2 separate regions of the Homo sapiens genome follow, and region 2 is linked to region 1. Evidence: fine-mapped expression QTL. A gene starts in region 1. The other region holds a variant in brackets. All regions are shown on one strand. Distances are between the middles of the regions.

Region 1 (10,635 bases):
GCAATCCATGTTGGGCTTCCTGATTTTTGTTTTTTATTGCCCTCATTGACATGACTAAGTAAACAGTACACAAATACATGCCTACAGTGACTGTACACATAGGGAGGCAATCTTTCAAAGCTTCTCTTTTATCCAAGATAAAATGAGAGGCTGAGGCAGGAAAATCGCTTGAACCCGGGAAGCAGAGGTTGCAGTGCACCGAGATCGGGCCACTGCACTCTAGCCTGGAAAAAGTGGAACTGATAACACCACCTCCCTCTCCTCACCTTATGTAACACAGTATCTGTGGTACAACTGACTAATAATGTGGGGGCTCTGCAATGAGCAAAGGCCAGAAGGTAAGGACTCTAGATTAGACTAATAGACTAAAGATTCCATTCAATTTCCAGGTGGCTCTAAACCAGACTCAGAGGTAAATAAAAGCAAGACGAAGGTTAAGGCACATTCAAAGGAAAGAGGAAAAAAAACCCGAGAGGCAAGACCTGGGAGCCACTGAAGACTATAAGACCATGTTTAAATCAGTGTGGTTATTTTAAACATAAGCCTAGCCATAGAAAGTTCAAATACGAAGAACCTTGAAAACTTTCTTCTTAGAGTCGGCATCAGTGGAACCCTTTGTTAGCGAGGCCAGGTCAGGCTCAGACCTTGGAAGTTTAAAGCGGTTTGGAGATCTTGGGAAATACTTTCAAGGACAGCAACAAAATTACGTGTGGGCTTGGGGAAGACGCTTTACAGAGGAGCAGGTGTGAGAGCTGGTTTTTCCTGGGGTGAGAGAAAAGAAGGGGTGAGACACTTAAAGCTACCCAAACAGAAAGTGCTGTGACAAAGGGCAGGCTTCCTCTTGGACGCCCAAAGGCAGGACAAATGGAGTGATGCTGTGGTGCAGGAGACGGGATGAAATGCAACAGAGATGCTGGAAATGAGGCCAGGCACGGTGGCTCACGTCTGTAATCCCAGCACTTTGGGAGGCTGAGGCAAGAGGATCACCTGAGGTCAGGAGTTTGAGACCAGCATAGTGAAACCCTGTCTCTACCAAAAATACAAAATTAGCTGGGGGTGGTGGCGTGTGCCTGTAATCCCAGCTACTTGAGAGGCTGAGGCAGGAAAATCGTTTGAACCCGCGAAGCAGAGGTTGCAGCGAGCCAAGATTGCGCCACTGCACTCCAGCCTGGGAGACAAAAGTGAGACTCTGTCTCAAAAAAAAAAAAAAAAAAAAAAAAGAATGAAAAAAGATGCTGGAAATGTGACTTGGGGAGGCCAGGAAGCTTCTCTGGAGAACAGAGAGCAAACGGCAAACTTTCCCTGGAAATGCTAGCACATTCTGCACAGACGGCAAGGCGAAGAAGGGCCCAAGGACCAATGCGTTCCTCACTCTCCAGTGCCCCAGCTCTCCCTTCTCAGCTGACCTTTAGAAGCTCCCCTGCACCTCCCCCGGGCTCTCACAGAAAAGAAAAATATTTGCCTCCAAATATTCACAAGATCTTTAAGATCTCCAGCAAAGCTGCTGCCTAAATAAGACTGTTTTTTAGCATCCTTAGAAACAGAAAACAGATATCTAAAATAGACGGCCTTCATAAAAAATGACGTGGAAGCTCTTTTCACACTGCCAAGAAATATTAAGTGAAAAAGGCAAGGTTCCAAATAGCATGTATGCAGTGTGCTACCATTTCTGCAAAAAGGGGTGGTGTACAGAATATGTTTAACGAATTTGCTTACAGATGTATAAAATCCCTTGGAAGTTCAGGGACCACTTCTGGAGGATGAAGAAATCGCTAATACTGGTTGCCTCTGAGGATCAGGGGTCAGGGGTACACACAGATGTATTTACTAGTTAACCTTTTGTGCCTTTAAAAAATTTTCTTTCATCATGTGAATGTATTGCCTATTTTTAAAAACTAAAATTTGAATTAAAAAATTTTAAAATTTCTATTAAAAACAATTTTAAAACAAAATAGTTTTTAAGCAACAAACCAAACTAATTTGTTAATCTTGTCAACTGTGTTCCTGGCACACACCAGATGCTTAATTTGTTGAACTTAATGAACCTCCACTTAAAGACAACAAAAGAAAATCAGAAACCAGGCAAATCCAAGGGTACCAACGTTCCACTTCTCTAAAAAGCTCTTCACCTGTCTGCTATTTATTGTGAAAGATCAGACAATGAGTCGGTGTGTAACAAGCCCCTCACCCAAATGGCCCCAGTCCACAAGCTTCAGGGGTAATGGTGGAGCTTATCGTCTGTCCACACCAACCATTTTACAAACAGAAAACATTCAATCCAAAAATATGATGCCCTGGACAAGACAACAAAAATCAATCTGCAGATATGAAAATCCTGAAAGGAGATAATGTAGCATCTGTATGGTATCAACAAAGAAACAGCAGCACAGGGCTTAAAAATGTCCTACTCATGCACTGGCCAAAAAGGCTGAACCATGAAAAGCTGCTATAAAATCCTGACACCAGACACATTTAAGAGGCACCCTGAACTTCTCATTGCTCTGTTCCTGGGGATAGCTTAGCCCAAGATGAAACAGAAAGGCTAAAGCAACTCATGCCCCACATCATCTATACTCTGAAACTGGTCATGGAGTACTCAAAACTCACAATGCAATAAAAATGGGAATACTGTAAGCTGTAGGTCATGGTAGAAATTCTGCCACACAAAATTCAATTATATTGGAAATGTCTCTCTCCTGGGGCTTTTAAAAGAGCCAGATTTTAGGCAAAAAATAAGACAGACTCTACCCCTGTCTCCCATAAGACCAAAGAAATTATTTCCTGCTCGGGGCAGGAGCTCTGAACAAGGGCAGTGAGAACCACTACAGAGGTTATGGGTCCTGCCGGAGATTACCAGGAAAAGGCGTAAATGCTTAAAGCAACGAGTAACAGCAAATGAGAAGCTCATCCACCAAAATACTGAGAAAAGAGAGTGAGAAAGAGAGAAAGGGGCCCATATTAATACACAAGCAAAGAAATGAAAACTATTATTCTAAAATGGCTGATCTCTAGAACAGCTTAAACAAAAACCGAAATTCAGAATCAACTCAAGAAAAATAAAGCATGAGAAGGTGCCATTTAATGAAGTGATAATCTTTGGTTCAATCTAGAAAACAAGTAAAAACAGAAGAGAAAATCAAAGGTGACTGGATTCCTGCAAAAAATGAAAGTGGCAGGCATCTTTTCATCAAAAGGGAATTGGCTGGCACACTGAGAGTGCCTATTTGTCAGACCCACGCAGGCGATAAAGGAAATGAAGGTGAGAGTAAAAAGGGAAAAAAGTGAACGACCCTGACTAAAATGAGAGGAAAAAGACCATTCCCTTGTACTTGCCATCTGGTTTATTTCAAGCTTTGGAAAAGAACAGGAAAAACACAGATAAACCAGTGAACCAGCTAGATTGCCAGCACGGATCAGTCACACACTTTTGCTTCTGCCAGGCCAGGCAGGCGCTGCTGGTGCTCCCCCTATTCGAATGACTAAGTAACTTCCTTAAATGCAGTTGACACATGATCCCTGAACTTCCGAAAAGCACTTAATACAGTGGCTCATAAAATCTTAATCTAAAAATGTTCATCCATTTAGAATCAAGCTGCATCACACTCATCGCTTGGGAGGAGGGCTGAAGAGAGGGAATACATATTTGGAAGGACACCATGGACACGGGTATCATCCAGGACTTTACCATTTCGAGGGATTCCCACCCCTCACTGCCTGCTTTTAACGATAATTTTAAAGGGTTCAGAGCCTAAGAAGAATGTAACTGCAAGGGGGAACTAACATAGAAACTAAATTACCTGAATCACAAAAATAAGTAAGGTATAAAATGCAACGTGACTTGGAAACCCCTTGCAGCTGTCTGTGTTAAAATGAAATCTGGAATATGTTAAATGAATTTGGGGGTGGGGGGAAGGGGACTGGGGGAAAAATTAGCTCTTGATAGAGTATTGGGTGGTGGATATGAAGAAAAATGTACAAAAAGGCAACAGAATATCATATCTAGCAAATCTATTGTGCTTACCCTGTGCCAGGTACTGTTCTAAATGCTTCAGATGTAGTAACTCCATGCACTTCTCAAAACAATCTTCTAACATAAGTATCATTATTATTTCTGTTTTAGAGGTGAGGAAACAGAGGCACAGAGAAGTTAAGTAGCTTGCCCAAGGTTGTACAGCCAGTAAGAGGCAGGGCTGGGATTCAAATCCAGGCACTCAGGCACCAAAATCTGTCCTCCTAACCTCTCTGGACTCCCCTAGAACTTAAAACACTGAGAATGGGCAAACTAAGCTTGGAGTGAAATAAGTCATGCACTGGCTAGATCTAAATACAGTCAAGAGATCAACCCTTAGTCATGGGCCTGTGATGACCAACCAGCCCTGTGACCACCCCAGGCCTCAGTTTCCTCACCTGTGCATTGAGGAGACTGAATGAGAGTCCACCTAATTAGACTTAGATAGAGATGAGCTCTATCTAAGGTGCCTTCAGCTCTAAAATGTCACAGTCCGTGCTGACTACCAGCTGTATATGGACTGCTTTCTGACTAGATGTTCAAAGATTAATTCATCCTAAAACACACAGCAAGGTGTGTTAAGATTCTTTCTCTGCCTCCTGACCTTTAGATTATTATGTTCTCTCTATTCCGGCAAATGACAGAGGGTAGTGAAGGATTTCTCTTTTGGACTCTGCTTAATGTGGCTGTAAGGAAACGGCCTTCGAAAAGCTCTGGGCACAGATCTTGTTGACTCTGCCAAACCTGCAGTCTCTCCAGGTCCCTCTGTGGAGCCTGTTCTTGGAACATGCCTTTGGATTTGGTTACTGGAATGCAGGTGAAACTGACAAACTGGAGGTCCAGCAACCAAAAAAGAGAGATTGGGAAGATTAAGAGAGCGGTCCATGGTAGTTCAAATACAAGGAGTTTCACAGTGGCTAAATAAACCTCTATCTTTTTGTATAATCCAGTCTCTTTGCTAACACCCACTCTTGAGAGCTGAAACCTCAAAATTCATTATGGGTGAATTCAACAGCCACTTGGAACCTAATGGACCCCCAGAAGTACTCTTCTCAAGCTAGGCATCAAAGGCCACTTAGAGTGCATTTGTGGGTAGAGAAGGCCCTTACAGATGGGTCATGCAGTCCTCCCTTGGGAGTCCTAAGCATCCGACACAGGTGGCTGTCATCAGGCCACTGCTTGGACATCGCCAAGGTCGAGGCGCTAGCTGCCCGGCCTGGCAGGCAGCCTCCTGCGCTGCTGGACAGCTCTAGCTGTGGGAAAAGCTCACGAAGGGCCTAGAACAGTGCCGGTCGCGGGGCCGAACTCGGTAAATGTGCTTCCAAGTGGGTCAAAAGCTGCCTTTCTAGAACTTAAACCCACTGGTCCTGCGTGAGCCCCTGGAGCCCCGAAACACAGAGGCCTCTCGGGTATCTCGGGCTGTAATCAGGCCCCTCGGCCCTCTCCTTCCAGGTGCGGATCCCGGACCTTCTTCGCCGAGCCTGAACCGGCAGACCCCTCCCCAGGCCCCTGAAGACCCAGGAGTGAGCACCAATGGGGGAAAGGCCGCGGTCGGGGTTGTCCCCAACCTCGGTTCCTCGGGCAGAAGGGGACAAAGGGCCTCAGGAAGGCGTATCCCCCGCCGCGATCTGGGCTGTCCCCACCACTGGGCAAGCCAGCCCCTGGGACCCCCACGGCGCCAGATGACAGGCCCCCCAGGATCCCCTCAGGCTGCGGCGTGATGGGCCGAGCTACGCCGGGGACCTCGGGGCTCGGAGATTCGGTTCGACGGGTCCGGGGTGCGATCCCCGCTCCGCGGAGCTCGCTCGGCCGTGGCTTTACCTGCGTGTGATTGACTACAGGTGCTCAGCTCGCCCCCAGTCTGGTTCCTGCAGCTCCCCGGCTGCCAGCGGCGCTCATGGATATACAGCCGGAACCCCTGGCCAGTGCAGCTCCCGCCGCTACCGGCCCCGCCCAAGTAACTGCCGCCACGCCCCTGACGACCGCTTCTGCCACGCCCCTAACCACGGAAACCGCTTGTTCATTGGGCAGTTCAGCCGCTTCTCCACTTGCCCCGCGCGCTCATTGCGTCTAGGAGGGGATCCATTGATCAGCGAAGCTGTTCCTCAGAGTGGAGGCGGGATTCTTAGGGGAGAGCTCCTCAGCAATTGGTTACATTTGACGGCTTTAGTCCAGGGACCCAGACGCTACTGGATAAGGCCAGCCCGGAGTGGGCGGGGAAAGGGGAGGAGGGCTAGAAGGTGGGTCGTGTTTGATGTCGATGGGGGCGGGGTGAAGAGACGGGTAATTGTGACCGCAAACTGCTTTAGAGGGCTGGGTAAGGTCAGCTGTCGACTGGGCTCAGAGGAATGAGGTCGGCTGGTAGCTCAGCTGCTGGTAGCTCAGCTGGGGCTCTTATGGGTCCAGGCCGACTGACTGACTCACGTGTACTCAAATTTCGCAGGGGTGAAATTTGAGGTCATATCCCGGGAGAGAGGAAGAAGGGTCGTGAGTCACCGAACCCGAAGGAGAGGAAAAGATGTGGAGGCAGCGGTCTATGGCCTCTTCCAGCTCCGGACGGGGGATGGGGACGCTCTGGGCAATACGGGCCTCAGTTATTGTCCCACTGTCCTTTCAACCCTTAACCAACCCAGTTGGAGGCCGCCTGGAAGAATGTAGCCTTGGAACTAGGGCCTGGAATTGGGGCTCCTACCGGTTGTGTGGGCTTGGGCAAGTCACTTAACCTTCCCGCATGCTCCCTTCACTTGGCAACTGAGGGTAACAATAGTAGTTGATGAGAAGATTAAATAAACTCTGATAAATGCCAACAGTGGCTGGCACTCAACAGGCATTCAATCAAGGCTGATTCTTCCCCCATCACCCACTCACCTCATCCGGCTGGGAAACTAGGCCCATTTCTAAAATTCTATGAGCCTGAAACTGCTTTTGCAATGGCATGTCGTGTACCAAGAATAGAACACTTGAGCGACTTGAAATGCAACCCCTGTAGGGCAGACAAGGCCACCCTACCAAGGCCCCATAGGGCTCGGAGAGAGGGAGCAGGGGATGAAATGAGAGGAGCGATTTAGTCAGAGAAGGGAAGTGGCATTTGTTACCATGTAAATTTTTCCCAACATATTTCAGGTTGTGACAAGGAACAGTGGGCTGGCTCAAGTTTTATGGAGCGTAACCAAATAACATCCTTTGAAGGCTGATCAGCACCGGACCAGAAATCATTGCATGAGCTCTATCTGTCAGAGACCCCTGAAACCCATTCCCCATTCTGAAGGTGTAGACATCACAGAGTGTGGACAGAAATAGCTTCTCAGGCCTGAATGTAGCCCCAGACCCTTTGTGTCTGTCTTTGAAAGAACTCACAGCCATGGTACATCAGAGTGAAGGAGAAGAAAGAATCCTTTGCCATTGCTCTATTTTTCATTCAGTTGTCATGTTACCTTGAAAAAAAAAGGTTTCATCTCAGTGTTTATATATTCCTCTGTATTCTCTTTCATCTTGGAAAAGAAAAACCCAGGCTTCAGTAGCAAAGTCTCTTAGTGATGAACCCCATCGTCCTGACTCTGAGTTAAAACAGTTTGGACTTCCAAAAAAGAGCTTTAGATTATCACTAGATAAGTATATAAGGTAATGCATATGTTAACTAGCTTGGTGTAGCTATCCCACAATGTATACATGTATCAAAACATGGACCGGTACAGTGGCTCACGCCTGTAATCCAACATTTTGGGAAGCTGAGGCGGAGCCCAGGAGTCTGAGACCAACCTGGGCAACATAGTGAGACCCCGTCTCTACAAAAAATTTAAAATTTAGCCTGATGTGGTGGTGCATGCCTGTAGTCCCAGCTAGTGGGGAGGCTGAGGCAGGAGGGTTGTTTGAGCCCAGGAAGTTGAGGCTGCAGTGAGCTGTGATCGCACCACTGCACTCCAGCCTGGGCCACAGAGTGAGACCTTGTTTGACAAATAAACATAATAACATGATAAACATAAATAAGTAAAGCATGTTGTACATCATAAATATATACAAATTTTGTCAATTAAAAATTAATAATAATTTAAAAAATAGGCTGGGCACAGTGGCTCAAGCCTGTAATCCCAGCACTTTGGGAGGCCAAGGCAGGAGGATCACCTGAGGTCAGCAGTTCCAGACCAGCCTGGCCATCATGGTGAAACCCCATCTCTACTAAAAATACAAAATTAGCTGGGCATGGTGGCACACACCTGTAATCCCAGCTACTCAGGAGGCTGAGGCAGGATAATCGTTTGAACCCAGGAAGCAGAGGCTGCAGTGAGATTGCACCACTGCATTCCAGCTTGGATGACAGAGTGAGACTCTGTCTCAGAAAAAAAAAAACAAAAAAGATTTGTCACTAGTTTTGGAGGGGTGTGTACACATATCTATGTACACATTTGGTTCTGATCCACAGTTTTCTGGTTCTTGTCTTTAAACAGTGCTGCTTGGTAGCCATACACATGGCTGCATGCATGTTACGGAAATAGGCCCAGCCCAATACAGGTTTGCTTCTGCCTGTGTTTGCTAAGGGAAAGTGAGATGTCTTGTTAGGCCCTGAAAAGCATGAAGTGGCTCCTGAGATCCAGGATGATTTCTCCAACTTGATTCAGAGCCACAAAAAGCAGCTGTTAGGAGTAGATTGCAGATGGGCTCGCCATTGTGTAAATGGCTTTTTTCTCCCATCTCAGGAACATAGGTTCAGCCACCAGTTCCAGAAAAGGACATCTTTCCAGTTCAGGAATTCTAAAACACAATTATGTCACAGAGGCTCAAAAAGAGGCACAGACTGAGCTCAGGAAGAGGAGGAAGAGTAAAAGGATCCGGGCATCTTCTCTGCAGCTCTGGCAGGCTTAAAGAATGATCCATTATCATTTCCCAGCACACAGAACTGTTTCCTTAATTGTCTCTGGTTTCTGTTTCCTCCCTTCTGCTTGCAGTCTTGCCATATTCTGTTTAATCATATTATTTCATTCTATAAATCATTTCTGAGGGAGGCCATTTAGGAGACAAAATGGACTTATTTTTGCCTTCAAGTTTAGTGGCCCGTTGGGATTGAGGATTTGGTGAGCCTTGGCCTGAGATAAGCAGGTGTTGGGATGTGGCTGTAAAGTGAATTTTCAAAACCGTGACAGTACCTTGTAATAAAAAAGAACAAGGGAGAGGGTATGCCCCAGTCACCTTCTGGGATGGCCAAAGCTGCAGGACTTCATTAAAGCAGAACTGCTTCTAACTCAACTGGGGCCTCTGCAGGATTTACTAACCTGAGAAAGTCAAGGTACTCTGGGAGACAGCAGGGAGCAGTGGTTGGAGCAGATAATATGTTCTATTTATTCTTTTAAGGAAAATCAGCAATTCACTCAGTTTGTCATTTTTGTTATTCTGTGTCCTCGGGGGATGGTTCAGAGAAAGGGGATTTGGAAGCTCTACTGCTGGGGATTGGATCCTGATTCCATCCTTCCTAGCCTTGTGACCTTGGGCGAGTACAGCACATCTCTGTGCCCTACTTTCTTCTGTAAAACGCAGAGGACAGTGAAGTGCTTGTCTCATGGGGTCCTTTGAGTGGCAGATGAGTTCACAGATGCAAAGTGCATCAAACAGTACCTGGCAAATACCTAAAAATGTTTAATAAATGTTTGCCACAGCTATTATAGGAGCCCATTTCAGAACCTTCCTCTAAGGTCCTCACTCATTTTCTAAGTTCTAGCCCTCAGAAGTAGTGATCACAGGATTCAGGATTTTTAGAAAATATAGATAGACTTTATTTTTTAAAGCAGTTTTAGGGCCAGGCGCCGTGGCTCATGCCTGTAATCCCAACACTTTGGGAGGCTGAGGTGGGCGGATCACTTGAAGCCAGGAGTTTGAGACCAGTCTGGTCAATTGGCGAAACACCGTCTCTACTAAAAATACAAAAATTAGCTGGGTGTGGTGACGTGTGCCTGTAATCCCAGCTACTTGGGAGGCTGAGGCAGGAGAATCGCTTGAACCTAGGAGGCGGCGGATGCAGTGAACCAAGATCGTACCACTGCACTCCAGCCTGGGCAACAGAGGGAGACTCTGTCTCTAAATAAATAAATAGTTTTAGGTTTATAACAAAATTAAGTGGAAAGTACAGACAGTTCCTATATACACACTCTCCAACACATGCAGGATTTTTTTTTTTTTTTTTTTTACACTAGCAAAATCTCACCACCTGGTGCGAGAAACTTTTCCTTTCGAATATGGTTACCAAAAACGGTTTGAGGACCGAGTTAAGGTTTTTGAGACTAGACCTCATCAGTGTAATCACTGTGAGGGAAATGGAAAGGATGAGGCTAAGAGAATAATAGTAAAAGCTGCAGCCTGGAGGTTCATAAAGTATTCCTGCAGTCATGACATGGTGCAGTCTGAGGGATCCAATATTGTGGCTTTATTGTCACAGCCGGTGCAGTCTGCATGCAGTCTAGGAAGGAGGTTCAGAATGTCCTGTTACCAGGTCGACTGTCTGGCTTCTTATTGGTAATGGAGATGAAGTTTGTTTAGAGGCTTTAAGTCCCAGCATGCAATAGTTCCATGAGGACAAACTATGATGAAATTCAAAAATGTGGTCCTTTTGTTATTAGAAAAGGCTTTCTGGTGGCCAG
Region 2 (10,635 bases), 39 kb before region 1:
GAGGGTACAAGGTCATAGGTTCTACTGGCTGATAAAAGAACCTCTGGGAAATGCAGCCAGGCTTCTTGACCAGGGTGAGCCTTGAGCACAAATGTAAGAGGAAGGAAATGATGCAGCTGCCCTGGAGCTTTCCGTCAGAGGAACAGTTACAAAAAGCTGATAGAAGCCACTGTTGATGGCTGTGGGTTAGCCCTGTTGAAATGGCAGCCCTCCCCTACGGTATGTGGGCACAGGAAAACATTTTCTCAGATGGTCAACAACTCCATCCTTGAGAAACCCCAGCTTAGGCACCAGACCTTCATCTTGTCCACAAAGTGAGAGAGCGCCACCAAACCATGCAGATAAGCATGTTCTAGAAAGTCCTACTAAAGCAAAGTCCATCTCTCTTTACATATAAAGGACAAATGCAAAGGACAGTGCTGGTGTCACTGCTTATTATTAGGAATGAACAAGATAATGGCTTTCAAAACTATGAAAGATGAAATGCATATTCAGAGTCCTCTTAATTTCATATCAATTTGAAATAGCTATAAGAAATTAGAAGCTTAAAAATCACCCATATCCTCACAAGCCTTGCAAAAATATTCTCATTTTTGTTTCCTTTTCATCTATATCTATCTGAAAGCAGAGTATTTACATAGTTACAACAATGGTGCTCAGATAGAGATATATAATTGTCTTCTGCTTTTTTCACTTATTCTCTATTTTTATAGATAATTAGTATGCTAAGTTCTGAACGTCTGCATAAAATTCTATCCTGTTTATTAGCTATAGTTAAGGGAGGGAGCAAACATTTATTTAGCCCCTTCTATGGGCATGTTACATAATTCAATTTGTCCCTTACAGCGATTCTTATTATTAGGACCCCCTTTACAGACAGAAACTGAGTGTCCAACAGCCTACTGCACAGCGGACCCTGCATTTGAACTCTGTGTGTGTCTGACCCGACAGCTCTTTCTTTCCCCTGCATTATCTTGCTGCTGCCTCCATTGTTGGATGCTGCTATTCCCAGTTTTTACTATAATAAACAATGCCAGCAAAACATCTTTACATATTTTGTTTTCATCTTTCTTGAATTTTTTTTTCATGTTTTTCAACTCCTGTTTAAAAAGTCCAACAGGATGCCTCATCTGTCTCCTGACTCCTGCCCCTGAGAGATGACTATTCTTAACTCCTTTAGTCGTCCCTACCATCCCACACTTGCCTTTATTTCTTAATGCCATGCTTATCCTGCTTATGCTGGTTCTTCAATTTCAGTTTTCAATAGCACCTATTGAACTTCCTACTCTGGAGGGTGCTAGCTCTCTTACGTCTCTCCTAAGACTTACATTTTCCCCTCGCCCATTCTTTTCAACACTGTTACAGCAACACTTATGGTTAATTTTCAGTGTTTATAAAATTATAATTATGGAAATATTAGCCACAAAGAAGTCATATGTTGTATTCTTTTTTGTGAAATTTTTTATTTTCCCTCAAGTTATCACTTTTATCATTTCCTCATCAGCTTAGTTTTCTATGTGCCAATCATCAATTTGTCTCCAGACTCTAGGGGACCTGTTAGTCTCTCAATAGTCAGAAACCAGTTTTGCTTTTTCTTGGACACACCACTGAGGAGTCCCTGTGCCTGTTCCCCTCTGGAAGGGCTTCCCATCCTGCCCCTTCACCTCTCTGCTGGGTCCTAGATCCCAAGGCCACACCAGATGCTATCAGACAACAGAGAAGAGAACCATAAATGTCCAGAAAGCATTCATCAGAAAGAAGGTGATTATGTTCTCTCAAATAAAGAGGCTGTGTGGAGGTATGAAGGGATTCCAGGTAGAAGGCATTGCAAATGTAAGACATAGTCAAGAGAGAACATGCAGTATGAGAAAATGTGGAGAGATCTGATGTGTCTAGAACACAAGGAATATAGGGAAGAAGGAGCGAGGGCTGATGCTGGACCTCGCCCTACAGACAGTGAGGAGCCACTTGGTTTAAAGCAGGGGCATGGCATGATGAATTTGTGCTTTAGGAAGATAATTTGGTGGCCTGCAAGATCAATTAGAAAGGGTAGAGAATGGAGGGAAAGCTATTGCATTCTTCCAGGTGAAAGCTGATGACGTCCTGCAGTGAAGCAGAGGCACTGAAGGAGAGATGGAGTGAAGGACAGAAGGAAGGAGGCCCACGTGACACAGGCTGCTGCCTGTGGCCATGATTATTCTCCTCTTCTCTGGACACAGGTGTGCTGCTTCTCAAGTTAGGCATGGGCACGAGCCTTGCTTTAAACCAGGGGTGTCTAATGTTTTGGCTTCCCTGGGCCACTTTGGAAGAATTGTCTTGGGCCACACATAAAATACACTAACACTAATGACAGCTGATGGACTAAAAGAAAAAGAAAATCACACAAAAAATCTCATAATATTTTAAGAAAGTTTATGAATTTGTGTTGGGCTGCAATCAAAGCTGTCCCAGGCCACATGCAGTCTGTGGGCTATGGGCTGGACAAGCTCTCAAGCTTGTCCAACCTGCCTTATTTTGTTGTTATTGTTCTGTTTCTTTTGTAGGCTTTTAGCAGCCTAAAGCCATGGTTTGTAGTTTCTGTCTCTAGTGATAAGCAAAAAACAGGGATGAGGAAGGGGCTTTACCGGACCAACCAGAAACAGAAACTGAGAACCCATGACTGTATTATCTCCCTTGGACACCCAAACCAATGAAATGGGAAAGGAAATGACCAAGTGCCATTTCCGGTAGCAGCCTGTAAGAGCCAGTGTGTGAGGTGTGACATTGCTCTTCCTGGCTCGGTGATGACCACGGAAGCAGGTGTTGAGATGTCACCTCCATCAGCTGGGGTCCTGGTGGGATGACAATCAGCAGAGCCCTCCTGCCCATTGAAATAAACACGTAGCATGAGTGAGAAATAAACATTTGTGGCTTTAAGATGTGCAGGTTTAGAGGTAATTAGTTACCACAGTATAAACTAGTTTACTTCGACTAATACGATGTCCAACTTAATATAATTTTGACAATATTGCCATATTTTCCTCTGAATATCAAATAATATTTCATGTTTTAAGGCTTCATTGTTACCAAGTCTTAACATTATGAGGTGCTTATTACATGTATTTCCTTATGTGGAATTTATCTAGGCACATCTTTTACCCACTTACCCACTGATGTCCTACTGACATTCAGGTGTGCTTGTGTGACCTTCGTGTACATTATGTCTTTTGCTATTTGTACAACTGATCTAGCTGATAATATTAAAATAAAAATAGCTACAATAATAGCAGCTATATTTACTGAACTCTTACACATGCCAAGTATCCTATAAATCATCTTACATGCTGTTCTTTTTTTTTTTTTAATCAGCATACTGAACCTATGAAATAAGTGCTATTATACCCATCTTACAAATGAGGAAATAGAAGCTCGGCAAGGTGAAGCCACTGGCCAGCAGGGGGCAGGGCTGGCATCTGAGCCCAGGTGGGTCTCACTGCTGATCTGGACTCTGGATTCCCGGGGGGCAACAGCTCGCTAACTTCACCCTCTCACTTGGGCCCCTGGATTTACCCTCTCAATCTTAGGGGAAAAACCTTCAATCAATTTGGCTTTCTCCTCCAGTTTCCATTTTTTCTCCTTCCTTCTCTGGTGTTTGTTTCCTGACTCACTTCTTTGGTTGCTATTGTGCTGACCTGTTTATTCACCTCACTCCTGAAAACACATTCTCAAAAATCCCTGATCCTTTCTGGCCAAGGTAGATGGCCTTTGGTCAGCCCTCATTCTTCCTGAGTTTCTGACACCCTCTTCAATGTTTTCCTTCTCTGGCTGCCATGGAACTGGAGGCTGCTGGTTCTCTCCCTACCTTTCTTACTGCCTGTCTCTGTCTCTTCCACCCTAGCCATGGCCTGCCTCAGCCATCAGTCTTTAGTGTCTCTCTCTGCCCACCCCCACAACCTCCCCTACCTGCAGCTGATCTGGAATCTACACATCTGGTCTTGAGCTCCCACCTAAGTTCTAATGCCATAATTGCACATAACCCTGTGCACATCCTGTGGACAAGCCCCAAGCTAAACAACTTTCCTTGAGAAAGCAGCTTCCCCATTAGAC[T/C]TCCCTATTTCTGTCAATGATTCTATTCTCTCAACCGCTCAGTAACCTCAGCATAATCTGTGATTCAGCCCTTTCCTCTGATGCCCAAGGCCATTCCATTACCCACCAATACCACTGATTCCACCTTAGAAGACCTCTGGAATTTGTCCCATCCTTCCCTTTCCAACCACCTACCACCAGTGCTCACAGGATCAAGCCCAAACTCTTCCTCTCTGGGAATTAGAGACTCCTCGTGATCTGATCTCCTCTTCCTCCCCCCCACAGACCATAGGGCTCTCTGCTACAATCAAACAGCTCTCAGCTCACCAGATCGTGGCATAGGGACCTGGTGAGGAGCTGGCCACGAAGCAACTATAGAGACCAGACCAGTGATGGGGCCCAAAACCCATTAGCAAACAAAATCAAAGGGCACAGTGAGCAAAGGGCAGACTGGGTAGCAGGGCCAAACATGATGCAAGCAGCACCAAGATCATTTTTGGGAGTTACAAGAGAGACAATCAAAGTCTAGCCAAATGAAGATCCATGGAATTAGGAGACAAGAATAGAGTAGCTGTGGTGACGGCAAAGCATTGACAACGTGGATATGTGTCAATGGCAGCAAGGCCTCTACCACCTTCTTATCCTGCTGACTGGTTGGAAGGCCCACAGGACAAAAGGACAAAGGTGGATGGGTGAAAAGTGTTGGCCTGGGCAGCAAAGCCAGTTTTCTGCCATGAGTGCTTGTTTAAATAATTGATTTTACTGGTTCATGCTCACACCAACATCTGTGCCTTCTCTCCTATTGTCCCATCTATCCAAAGCCAACTAATCTTTCAGGATTATGGAAGACCTCATCAGTCAAGCCACCACAGGAATATCCCCTCTTTCTCTAAATTCCTTTATCACTTACCTGAATTACTCACTCTGTCAATCACATGTTCCTACCAAAAGACTCTACTGAAGTTAGTGTGTACTGACTCTACAAGAAGCAGCAACCACAGGGAAGACAGAGAATTTTTAAGACAGTCTCTGTCCTTAAGCCTCTCAGAATACACTTGAGGTGTGACGAGAGATACATATGTGGAAAGTTATTGTTTCCATCCCTGTCCTTAGGTAAGAGCCAATGAGACAGAGACAGGTAAAAGTCAGGAGCTACTAGAAGAGCTACGATTTGAGAAGGCCTGAGGATTCTGACAGACAGAGAAGGTGGAAATGTGAGAAAAAGTATTGTGTGTGATATAGAAGGGGCTGAGTATGGTGTACAGACGGTGAACAGACTGGAAGAGCAGGTTACTAAATATTACTAATTGACTAATTTTTAAAATATACATATATATATATATATATGTGTATATATATATATGTATATATATATATTCACTGAGAAGAATCTTCCTTTATTCAAATCCCAAGGAAGGAAAAGTCCATACTGCTGTGGCTTGGCAGGTGTCAACATTTTAAAAAGCATTTATGGAGTTTCTCACTTTACATCAGTAAGAAATTACTGTTCAAGCTTTTGTGATCTGGCTGAAAACACCAGTTCAGGGTCTTGCCAGCAGGAGGATTTGGTGCTACATATCACAGGAAAGTCAGGTTGGTCATGGCAATGGCATTAGTACTCAGTGGAAGGGTAGAAAAACATATAACCTGCTGTTTCTCACAAATCTCTCCCTTCCTGGGAGGCTACAGATGGTTCTGGATCAACCACTGATCTCCAGGCAGGGTTCCCAAATGTTTTGGATTACAGACTCTTATAATGGCTACCTCAGAAGTTAAGCCATCTGGTTTGATGCCATGCACCCACGCTGACCCAGAGCCCTCACTCTATGATTAGAAACTGACAGCAGGTAGAGTTAGGGTGGTTCACAAGCTGCCACAATGGCTGACTCATTTCCATGGCTCACCGTGATACTACACTGCAGGCAGCTACCTCAGGCAGATGGAGGGCCTCTGAGGAGTACCCGGCCCTTGGTACTTGGTAGAGGGCACTTCTCAGTCTGACTACTGACAGTCATGGGGTAGCAAACAGCAATGGCATCTCATCCAATCATGCATAAAATCAAGTCTTCAAGGACTACAGCCTTCTGTATTAGTTATAGCTTTCTAGAATTTCATGGAGGGGTAGATTTCCTTATAAACTCAGGAAAATGCTTTCCTTAAGTAAACATTACACCATCTAATAAATTCTGACCCTAAAGCTCAGGATCCCAAACAGACTCCATTTGCAGGGAAGTATTCTTGATGCTGCTGAAGAAGACTGGGCTTCTAAAGCCAGTCACTTCACTCACTGTTGCTTCAGACAAAGAAAAGCGTAAACAGCCGTCAGCTCTTCACTCTCCACATCACTGCATGACACTGGCACTGAGAGTTTAGGAAAAATTCTTACTTACCCTCCAGAATATATTTTCCAAGTCAGTTTACTGTCTTAATTTTATTTTACCATAAAGTATATACTATTTTGTAGTACAAAGTGTACTATCATAGTGAAGGAGGGCATGCTGAGAAGCAGGCAGAGAAAAAGAACAGTGGAGATCAAAATTGGCAACCTCTGAATTCACAGGGTCAGTAAAACATGAGAGGCTGATAAAAGTTGGCTATCCTTAGAAATTCGAGACTTTCTAGAAAACAAGGTCCATTTCCTGCTCCCGGATAGTGGAGCAATTTTCAGTCAACCACACATTGAGAAGGAGTATAAAAGTAGATCTGATTCCATGTAAGTCCTGTAAAGCAAATGAGGTGTAAGCTAAAAGTTAAGGATGAATGGTGAACCAAGGTGGATTCTGAAATCGAGTCTGGGAAGGGGTGACACAGAGGGGTGACTCAAAACAGGACCTTACACGTGGAGCCAAGGCCCACTTACCGTCCACATGTACTGAATTTGATACCACGTGATGGAATCAGTTGTAGCATATACTTCCTTTTGGAAGACATATACTCCTTTTTTGGAGACATAGTAGGGCCCTGAAGAGTAAACTCAGGTATGATGAATAGGGCGGTATAAGGGTCATACATTTTTGGAAACCAGAATTGGTTGTTTTAAAGAATGCTCGGCACATAAAGGATGAGCCTTTTTCCATCTGAACTAAATCACGGGAGTCTTGACTATTTTGGATTCCGAACCTTTTTTTAGATCTTTCAGGCTTCGGCAATTCCTATAAGAAGGCATAAAGTCTCTAAGAAGAAGCTACAATCTGTATCTAGGTTAGAGAAGGTGGATGAATTCTGCAGCAGACTCAGACTTGGTGATCTTGATTCAATATAGGAGACCTCAAAGATGGCGGCACTTTTCTTCCTGATGTGGCTGGCCCCTTGCATAAATGACCTGCTACAGCAGAGACAGGGCAGGCAGGCAACATCCAAGATAGTGAGTAGTTGAGAGGGTGAACAACTTATCCCTGTTTGCCCTGGAATTCCCCGGTATTAGTACTGACAGTCCCATGCCCCAGTCCTGAGCAAACTGGAATGTTTGGTCAGCCAAGTAATAAAAGAGTGTCCCAGAGTCAGCAGTTTAACTTTCTTACTTTGACAGTTTTGGTTTGGGCTATTTCACCAGAAACATGAGCAATTTTAAGATGAAATTGCCTAAAAGTTTGACTTATTGAGGCTAGCCCTTAATATTTAGCCTCAATCAAGATGATTTTGAGTCTTCCATTTTTCAGGAATTTTCTAACAATATAAGTTTGCAGGTGAATATGCTCTGAAGGTCTGGTGGCTACAAAATAAGCACATCAGAACACTACAGTTCTGCCAATCACTTGTTAATAGTTTACCAGAAATATCCAAAGAAATATTTGCACAACTCTTTTTTTTTTTTTGACATGGAGTCTCCCTCTGTCGCCAGGCTGGAGTGCAGTGGCGCAATGTCGGCTCACTGCAACCTCTGCCTCACAGGTTCAAGTGATTCTTCTGCCTCAGCCTCCTCAGTAGCTGGGACTACAGGCATGTGCCACCATGCCCAACTAACTGGTTTTTTTTTTTTTGAGACAAAGTCTCACTCTTGTCCCCAAGGCTGGAGTGCAATGGCACGATCTCAGCTCACTGCAACCTCCACCTCCTGGGTTCAAGCAATTCTCCTGCCTCAGCCTCCCGATTAGCTGGGATTACAGGCACCTGCCACCATGCCCGGCCAATTTTTGTATTTTTAGTAGAGACGGGGTTTCACCATGTTGGCCAGGCTGGTCTCGAACTCCTGACCTCAGGTGATCCGCCTGCCTTGGCCTCCCAAAGTGCTGGGATTACAGGTGTTAGCCACCGCGCCCAGCCCTAATTTTTGTATTTTTAGTAGAAACGGGGTTTCACCATGTTAGCCAGGATGGTCTTGATCTCTTGACCTCGTGATCCACCCACCTCAGCCTCCCAAAGTGCTGGCATTACAGGCATGAGCCCCCATGCCCAGTCTGCACAACTCTTAAAACAGATAAAATCAGGTCGATGGAATTAAGGCTCTTGGCAATTAGGAATTTATCCTGTGAAAAGGACAAAGCTTTAGTGTTCAGCCAAGAAGGAAAGGATCTAAATCTGATGTGGAATGTCTGTGAGCAAGAGGGAATTAAGAGAAATTTAAGTCAAAGATAATGAAATTCTTTTCAGCTTTAACTTGCTATAAATAAATAAGCTGTGCTGGTTCCAGAATTTTTTTTACCTAGGAGGGGCCTAGGGTGGCAATCTGACTGGAAGAGAGTGTGTGAAGTTGCATTTGCCTGATGCTTTAAGATTGAGAAAACAACAACTGTCCATCTCAAAGCTCCTAACCCCAGCCTCTGCATTGGTACTGCCTCTGCAAAGAAACAGCTTTATAACAAGTAGGCAGAAAAGAAAATGGAAGAAGTGGCCGTTTCATATATGGAGTCCCGTGCTCTTTAGATCCAGAAAATAACTCCATATATTGCACTATCAGAGAGATTTGAATGAGTGCTTTTCTGTAGTGTATTTCTAATTATTTAATACTTCCTTGGTACACTAGGACAAAAATAGCATATTTTGCATATCTATGACAAATATAGTGTTCGTACACACAGAACTGAGCTCTTATTTGGGGCAGATAAAAGAAAAATGGATATTTACTGTTAAGAAGTATGTACAACAGCAATAGAGAGGGAGTTGGTACTGTTTGAGAGAAAAATCAAAAGTAGATTTGCTCTGCTTTATTAGAAATAATTAGGGGCTGGGTGTGGTGGCTCACACCTATAACCCCAGCACTTTGGGAGGCTGAGGCTGGAGGATCGCTAGCCCAGGGGTTTAAGACCAGCTTGTACAACATGGTGACACAGGTGAGACCCTGTCTTTACAAATATATTTTTAAAAATTAGCCAGCCATGGTGGTGTGGACCTTTGGTTCCAGACACTTGTGAGGCTGAGATGGGAGGATCTCTTGAGCCCAGCAGGTTGAGGCTACAATGAGCCATGATTGTGCCATTGTACTCCAACCTGGGTAATAGAGTGAGACATTGTCTCAAAAAAAAAAAAAAAAAAAAAAGAAAGAAAGAAAGAAAGGAGAAAAAAAAAGAGAAATAACTAGGAAGCACATTTGTGAGGAAACTGATTTTTAAAAAGTGCCTCTAGAAAACTTCCGTAATTAAAAAGCTTGAAAAACTGATCTTTTACAAATGCCTCCCCACGATGAGTCTCAGAGAAGTAGATCCTCAAATGCTCACTAACCAAGGCTGATGGATGACTAATTGGCAGGAAACTAAAGGTTTGGACACATTATGATGAGAACAGCATTCCAATTGGATTTCCGTTTGGAGCTTGTACTCCGGTGAGTGAAGAGAAAAAGGGAAAACCACCGGAGATGAATCCATTATGGTCTATGGAAGGGCCACAGGGCTCCTCCCATTCTCTTATGACTACCTGAAGCAGCTTCCAGGCGGACACGTCCAGAGAGGGCACCATGGCATAGGAGAGCCAACTGTAATTTTTGGCTTGGTGTTAGTGGGTATGCCCCTCACCCCTAAGTTTCAGGTGTCTCTCAAATCCACAGAGAACAATAATGTCCAGTTCTTTTTAATACAGGTGGCAGCTGGTTGCAGAAGAAAGCGATTACCTTTGCATCTCTGGGGAAGAAAGTACCCACATACATGTGGCTGTGGTTTTCATCATACTGCCTCCCTTCTCTGGACTCTGCAGGGGCTTCTAGATGTCTCTTGGATCCAGTGAAGACAACTCAACTCTCTGTTTTTCGGCCTATTAGCCAAGTCCTCCATCACACTCCTCCTAAATGCCTTCATCTTTAGCTATAAGACAGCCCATACTGGCAAGCTTGCTAACGAGTGAAAAAGCAGCAGCCTGGCTTCCCACAGGGCAGTATGTACATTTTAATAGCAGGCTTCCAGAGACAGGGCACCTGCTGCCTGTCTCTACTTCCCAACCGGGACCTGGTGATGAAAACTTCAGCCAGGCCCAGAGGGAAGGGTGGAGGCTGTGAACTGCCATTATGCATATGCCTGGGGTTGTCCTGCCTTAATTTAAGACCATAAGCAATCCATCTTCTTCCAGAAACAGGGTAGAGCCTTCCCAGATCAACAAAGCTCTGTCAGAGCTGAAGGTACACCTGATTCCCTAGAGCACCAT

The links. PIP is the estimated chance that this variant, and not a neighbour inherited with it, causes the effect.
Region 2: its variant is fine-mapped to the expression of ABHD2 in whole blood (INTERVAL, PIP above 0.99). The same link has a PIP of 0.9 or more in neutrophils.

The regions. Positions count from the first base shown.
Region 1 is chr15:89,083,759-89,094,393 of GRCh38, reverse strand. ABHD2 (abhydrolase domain containing 2, acylglycerol lipase) reads right to left here and starts at 5,938. Exons shown (of 11, transcript NM_152924.5): 1 at 5,831-5,938. It overlaps LOC124903573, which reads left to right. Exons shown (of 7, transcript XM_047433432.1): 3 at 2,153-2,218; 4 at 3,111-3,259; 5 at 5,462-5,559; 6 at 5,708-6,326; 7 at 6,453-6,833. The coding sequence ends at 6,667. CARMAL (coronary artery disease region linked MFGE8 regulatory lncRNA) reads right to left here. Exons shown (of 4, transcript NR_183882.1): 4 at 10,165-10,635. RefSeq lists enhancers at 5,279-5,798, 5,740-5,919, 6,530-7,175.
Region 2 is chr15:89,122,500-89,133,134 of GRCh38, reverse strand. All of the region lies in intron 3 of ABHD2 (abhydrolase domain containing 2, acylglycerol lipase), which reads right to left. Among named protein-coding and RNA genes, the nearest start is that of ABHD2, 39 kb to the right of the region's middle. The variant T/C (reference allele first, on the strand shown) is at 4,087.